Linked DNA regions of Homo sapiens. The protein of the gene in region 2 interacts with the protein of the main gene of each other region in a pairwise test. Each region holds a gene or a part of one and is shown on either strand. Other genes may lie near its edges.

The links. The genes of interacting proteins can lie anywhere in the genome.
Region 1: the proteins of SLC7A8 (region 2) and YIPF1 interact in binary tests that used the Homo sapiens proteins (3 or more experiments, as listed by UniProt).

What each region holds. Positions count from the first base shown.
Region 1 is NC_000001.11:53,865,645-53,869,297, reverse strand, and holds part of YIPF1 (protein YIPF1), read left to right. Parts: intron 1-2,373; coding exon 2,374-2,540; intron 2,541-2,915; coding exon 2,916-3,098; intron 3,099-3,653.
Region 2 is NC_000014.9:23,138,645-23,142,297, reverse strand, and holds part of SLC7A8 (large neutral amino acids transporter small subunit 2), read left to right. Parts: intron 1-1,673; coding exon 1,674-1,827; intron 1,828-2,750; coding exon 2,751-2,874; intron 2,875-3,653. UniProt on the Homo sapiens protein: Associates with SLC3A2 to form a functional heterodimeric complex that translocates small and large neutral amino acids with broad specificity and a stoichiometry of 1:1.

The DNA.
Region 1 (3,653 bases), on a different chromosome or scaffold from region 2:
TATCCAGTAACCTTGGTTTGAGTTTAATGCAATAAATGTTAACCATGAGATAGAAACCCTGCCTTCAGCTAGTTCACTGTGTGTACATAGAAAGATATGTATTTGCCTGTGTGTGTGTGTGTGTGTGTGTGTGTGTGAGAGAGAGAGAGAGAGAGAGAGAGAGAGAATGTATCCATGTATCCTTCCTTCTTTTCTTCCCCTCTACCTTCCATGCCCACTTTCCCTTCTTGTCCATCATGGAGTCAGACTTGGATTCAATCCCAACTCTATCAAATAACCTTGATTTGAGTTTAATTCAGTAAATATTAACCATGAGATATAGATCCTGCCTTCAAGTAGTTCAGTGGTTAGAAAGCTAGTAAATGACTATTGCTGTAAACAGTACATATTAACCTCTATATCAGAGATAAGTGTAGGTATATTGACATAGAAGAAGGAGTGAACCACTTTGCCTGGGGATCTGGAAACTCAGGAGAGTCTTTACCTGTTCTTATCCTCTTTGGCTGGGCATCCCAGTATCAGGAAGTGATGTGATATATATACTGGTAAAGTAGTCATTGGCCCTATCAATAAACATTTTTCCGTTTTATGTAAAAAGTATGAGTCACATCTGAGATGAGATCCTGCTTCTACTAACTTGTTAATTATGTGACCTTGACCAAACAACTTAGCTTCTCTGACCCCTTTTCCTCATCTCTAAAATGACAATATAGATTGTATGAAATAAATGTAGCTACATATTAGTTAACAATATAAAAACTAATTCTTGATTGAGCATTTATTATTGATCAGTCGCTCTTCTACATAGAACAGTTCTTACCTGCTTTTATTCATTTAATTCTCCTATTAATCTTAGAAGGTAGTATATTATTTTTCTTCCCATTTTATAGATGAGGAAACTGAGACAGGAAGGTTAAGTAACTTACCCCCAAGAGTTTCTTTTCCTAGAACTAGAACCCATGGAGTCTGTATACAGAGTCTGTGCCCTTGACCATTATTCCACATTGCCTCTCAATAAAGCACCGAGTGTAATACCTGATGCCCAGTAGTTGATCAATAAGTGACAGCTATAGCCATGGGAGTAATTTCCTCCTCTTCCCTTAGTTATCCAAGAAAAAGGCAGTACATCAGCAGAATTACATTTGGCCTAACGAGGCAATTCCCAGTGTGAAAAAACTGTTCTGGGAGCTAAAACATGTTTTGGACATTCATGTCTTAACCAGAGTCTGACTATAATTGTTAGGGGTGTCTTTGTTCTTGCCAAGATGCATTAAGTGAATTACCTACTGATTTTCATGTAGAAAGGGCTGGTGCCATGGCTTACCTATAACTTTATGACCTCCACTCCAGAAGAGGGAAAGGGAATCCTCCAGGGCGTGCTGCTACTAGAGGAAGAGGAGAGAGGTACAGGAATATGCTGAACGTTGCTGTTCTGAGGAGCCACTCAATAGCATTTTTGCCACAGTGGCGGAATTATTTATTTAAGGAAGAAAGTATAACTGGAGAATATTTCAAGCAGTTAATCAGTGAGCTGCATCTCCCAATTTCAGAGACAGAGGAACTCTAGAGAGCATGCAGAGCAAGTTAATCTCTACCCAAGGCATTTTAATACATTTGCTAAAGAAGTCAGTGTCAGCCGGGCGTGGTGGCTCACGCCTGTAATCCCAGCACTTTGGGAGGCGGAGGCGGGCGGATCACGAGGTCAGGACCATCCTGGCTAACACGGTGAAACCCCGTCTCTACTAAAAATACAAAAAATTAGCCGGATGTGGTGGCGGGCGCCTGTAGTCCCAGCTACTCGGGAGGCTGAGGCAGGAGAATGGCGTGAACCCGGGAGGCGGAGCTTGCAGTGAGCCTAGATCGCGCCACTGCACTCCAGCCTGGGCGACAGAGCAAGACTCTGTCTCAAAAAAAAAAAAAAAAAAAAAAAGGAAGTCAGTGTCAGCTCTTGTTATACCGAGGAAGAGAACATGTTCTTCCAAGGGGATAGTTGGTTTTTATTTGATTGAAATATCTACTATATATGAACATTTGCAGTGTGGCCCTCTGAAGTATTTCAGTTGCATAGTTCAGTTGTTTAATAATATTAGTTGTTAGTTATTAAATGACCTATAAAAACCATATGAGAGACTATTGATCCTCACCACAAAGACGAATGGTAAAGATTCATTAATTCAACAAACATTTCTAAAGTGCCTACTGTGTGTTAGGTACTGTACCAAGCTCAGGGATTACAGACCAGTAAGACATGATTCCGTGGTCCACTGAAGTCAATTGACATGTTAGCATTTAAGTACAATAAGGTGTTGGAAGTGCTCTGATAGTCTACTAAAGGCATGATGGAGATTGAAACTTGTGTCCTGTCATCCTCAGTGTCCATAGCAGCTACCATCATCTATGCCTATGCCTGGCTGGTTCCTCTTGCACTCTGGGGTTTCCTCATGTGGAGAAACAGCAAAGTTATGAACATCGTCTCCTATTCATTTCTGGAGATTGTGTGTGTCTATGGATATTCCCTCTTCATTTATATCCCCACCGCAGTAAGTACCATACTTAGGGAGTAGATTCTGAGTGATGCTCTGTTCTTGGTAGAAACTTCAACCAAGAATTTGACCTACCATCATTATTTCCAGCGCAATACTCATGTTCTTCTGAAAAAATCTCCTTTGAAGTTAGAAGTTAAGCATGAAAGGGGTCTGGGGAGCCTAGTGCCTTCATTGGATCTTGGGCCCTTTGTTATAAAAGCATATGCCTCAGTCTACATGCTGGTGGTGTTCCTCCAGCCTGTACTGAAAAACCAGAGTGGCAATGGGGGCCCAGCTGCTGATTGGCTCAGGGGCCTTTGTAAACATATGTGCCTGGAATGAACAAATGCCTCCCAAGAACTCCCCGCTCCTCCTTTTCTCTTCTTTCAGATACTGTGGATTATCCCCCAGAAAGCTGTTCGTTGGATTCTAGTCATGATTGCCCTGGGCATCTCAGGATCTCTCTTGGCAATGACATTTTGGCCAGCTGTTCGTGAGGATAACCGACGCGTTGCATTGGCCACAATTGTGACAATTGTGTTGCTCCATATGCTGCTTTCTGTGGGCTGCTTGGTATGGGTTCAGTCGTATATTCTTTTGGTGTGTTTTATATCCAAATGCTAAAAGACCTCAAACTGTTAGACACAACAGTTCTTTTAAAATTGAGTCCATGGGCTGGGCATGTTGGCTCACACCCATAATCCCAATACTTTGGGAGGCCCAAGTGGGCGGATCTCGAGCTCGGGAGCTCAAGACCAGCCTGGGCAACATGGTGAAACCCTGTCTCTACTAAAAATACAAAAATTAGCTGGGCATCGTGGCTTAAACGATCCTCCCACCTCAGCATCGCAAGTAGCTGGTACTTGGGAGGCTGAGGTGAGAGGATCGCTTGAGCCCAGGAGGTGGAGGTTGCAATGAGCTGAGATCATACCACTGTACTCCGGCCTGGGTGACCGAGGGAGACCCTGTCTCAAAAGAAAAAAAAATTGATTCTATGAAATAAAATTTCATTTTAAGTAGACTCACCTACATGGGAAGTGGTGAAATTATGAGAATTTGGCTTTAGTCTTTGGTTTTGCCTAATTTCAGTAATCTGATGAGAATTTGGGGTCTGACCAGAGGAAATAG
Region 2 (3,653 bases):
TTCCAAGCCTGAGGCTATATTTGGTTTCCATGGGACCCATGGCACCATGAGGCTCTGCCCAGCGTCACTGCCTCACGGAGAAAGTCAGGTGACAAACAGGGAAATTTCCCACAAGCCCTGAAGGCAGTGTGGGCAGCCCGGACTTCTACTCCAGGAAACATAATTAAGTTTCTGCTATATAATATGCCTGATTATTTTAAACAGTTGGATTAAGTTCTTTAACAGGTTATATATTGCTTTCAGGCATTTAGACTTAAGGAAATCACTGCGCTATCTTGTCAAAAATAGTGAGTCCCTCCTAAGCTGGCCTCAATTCTTTCTCCTGGTCACACTAATCTCCTTATTTCCTGTCCCAATGCTAAACTGCAGATGAATAAGTAACATATGATCAGTTACTCTCTATCTCATTGAAATTTTAGCCAGTCAGCAGATGATTCCAAGGGCCCACAGTCTGCAGCACACTGTGCTAGGGGGGCTGGGAAGGCAGTTTAAACAGCTCTTTGCTTAAAAATTCCTGTCCTTGGGGAATCTTGAAAAGAGAGACGGCCAGGCATGGTGGCTTACGCCTGTAATCCCAGCACTTTGGGAGGCCAATGCAGGCAGATCACTTGAGGTCAGGAATTCGAGACCAACCTGGCCAACATGATGAAACCCTGTATCTACTAAAAATACAAAAAAAAATTAGCCAGGCATGGTGGCATATGCCTGTAACTCCAGCTACTCAGGAGGCCAAAGCAGGAGAATCACTTAAACCTGGGAGGCGGAGGTTGCAGTGAGCTGAGATCGCGCCACTGCACTCCAGCCTGGGCGACAGAGCGAGACTCCGTCTCAAAAAAACAAAAAAGAAAAGAGAGACCAAACACACACCTCAGAAAGAGATAGGAGGATATCAACAAAGCAAGCAGCAAAACAAGCTTGAACTAATATAGCATTATGGAAACTTATGTTTGAGTGTTTGTTGTTCTGGATGCTTGCTTTTTTTGTTTGTTTGTTTTTTTCTTTTTTCTTTTTTGGAGACAGGGTCTTGCTCTGTCATCCACCCTGGAGTGCAGTGGCACAATCATAGCTCACTGCAGCCTCAAACTCCTGGGCTCAAGTGATCCTCCCACCTTAGCCTCTCAAATAGGTGAGCCTATAGGCATGCACCACCACACCCAGCTAACTTTTTAAATTAGTGGTGGAGATGGGAGTCTCACTATGTTGCCCAGGCTGGTCTCAAACTTCTGGCCTCAAGCATTCCTTCTGCCTTGACCTCCCAGATTGTTTGGATTACAGGCCTGAGCCACTGTGCCCAACCCTGGATGCTTCTTCATGAAAATGTAGAAACTTAGAGAAAGTGGTCAGGAGATTACCAATGACTCCAATCCTGTATTTCCAAAGCCCAATTTACCATGTCCTTTCCTTTTAAATAACTTTGCCTTTTACAAAAGGAGCATTCAGAACGGCACTTAAACCCTCATTTGGACTCGTAGTTTCCGGGGTCTCGGAAGCCCTGGACCTGAAATTCCCTGCTCCCTTTATCCCAATTTATCCAATATGTTGGGTTCACTGGAGACAAGACAGAGTTGGTGTCATTGCCACAGGGAGGGGTGAGAGGTGGGCCAGGGCAGGCCAGGGGCTGCTGGGCCCCTGACTTGTCTCACTGAGCGGCCTCCTGTTGCTTGTGTCCACAGGAGAGTACTTCTGGCTGGAGCCAAAGAATGCATTTGAGAATTTCCAGGAACCTGACATCGGCCTCGTCGCACTGGCTTTCCTTCAGGGCTCCTTTGCCTATGGAGGCTGGAACTTTCTGAATTACGTGACTGAGGAGCTTGTTGATCCCTACAAGTGAGTTGAAAGAGCCTGGCTATTCCCTCTCCCTTGAAGGGCCACAGCACCTGCTGCTGGAAAGAGGGAGCAGGTGTCCATTGCCCACCTCGCCTTCCAAAGCCCCATTCTAACTGTGATTTGATCTATCCTGAAGTCGTAGTTCATTTCCCAGGCACTTAAACCATTTGCCGTTCACCCCACCAGGAGGAGGAAAGGATCCAGTGACTTTCCCAGAGCAGATTAGAAGCTGAAAACTGTCCTGCAGTAACACTACTGCCTTAGAGAATGAATTGTGCCCTGAGAGGCTTCTGGGAATCTTGCTTGTTTCAGGACAGGCCGGTCTTGGTGTCTTGAGGCAGGGGGAAAAGGTGCATTGTGGAGATTCAGGTCAAGATCAACAGGTGTGGAGCGTATTTCCAACCTGAGTTGTTTTATTGCCTTCATTTTTTTAACTTATTTTTTCTTTTGTTTTGTTTTGTTTTTAGACAGGGTCTCACCCTGTCACCCAGGCTGGAGTCCAGCAGTGCAGTCATAGCTCACTGCAGCCTCAGTCTTCTGGGCTCAAGCAATCCTCCCACCTCAGCCTCCTAAGTATCTGGGACTACAGGCACATGCCACCATGCCCAGTTAATTTTTTAATTTGTAAAGAAGAGGCCTTGCTATGTTGCCAGGGCTGGCCTCGAACTCCTGGGCTCAAACAATCCTCCCTCCTTGGCCTCACAAAGGGCTGGGATAATAGGTGTGAACCACCACGCTCAGCCTCATTTCCTTTAAATTATCCTGCCCATATTGAGACAAAGCCCACCTCCCAGGGAAAGGAAGCCTCACAGAAGGCTGTAAGGCTACACGCATGCAGAAAGACAGAAGACACCCCCTGGACTCCATGGCAAGGCGGGTGTCCCGGGTGCCAGCCCTTCCCCTCACCTCCTCTCCCTCTACAGGAACCTTCCCAGAGCCATCTTCATCTCCATCCCACTGGTCACATTTGTGTATGTCTTTGCCAATGTCGCTTATGTCACTGCAATGTCCCCCCAGGAGCTGCTGGCATCCAACGCCGTCGCTGTGGTAAGAAATGAAAGTCCCAGAGTCTCATACCAGGAATGCAGACATAGACTTGCCTGCTGTAGCCCCACTCACTTTTCCCTGATCCATGGCCTTGTGGAAGTGGAAATCACCCCCAAGTTCTCAGGGCAGAAACCACATATGTCATTGGCTGGGGTATCTTTAAGTGCCCAGGAGCAAACAGGTGGCTGGGTTGTACCTAGAACAGCTACAATGGCAGAACCGAGTCATTGCCACAGAGACCGCGTGGCCTGAGAAGCTATAAGACATTTACTATCTGGCCCTTTACAGAAAAAGTTTGCCAACTCCTAGTCTCGGGCACTTAAAGCTCTAAATGTGAGAGTGGTATGAAGCAGACAGGCCCCTCCTCAGAAAGACATAATCTTGCACAAGACATGCCTTTTCTCTCTGCCTTCTCCTCCAGAAGCAGAAGTCAGGTGTGCTCTTTGGGGAAAGAGACCATGCTGGTGCAAGGGGTTGGGATCCTTCACATCTAAGAAGGACCTGGGAGGCACCTTGCTCCCTCACCTGGCATCAGGCTGGGCCACCACCCAGCCTGCCAGTCTCTTCACTGGCCTTATCTCAAAAGACTGTAAAGAAAGAGGTCCTCCCATCTCCTGGGGCAGCCTGTTCTTATGACCAACAGCCTTCTATTCTGAACAATCTCTCCTTGGTAATGTGCTGTAAACCTGGCTCAGGGAATATAGAAAAGGCTGGTCTCCTGCATTGTATAGTCCTTAAATACATGAAGATTCATCTATAGCTTCACAGCCTTTTCTTTC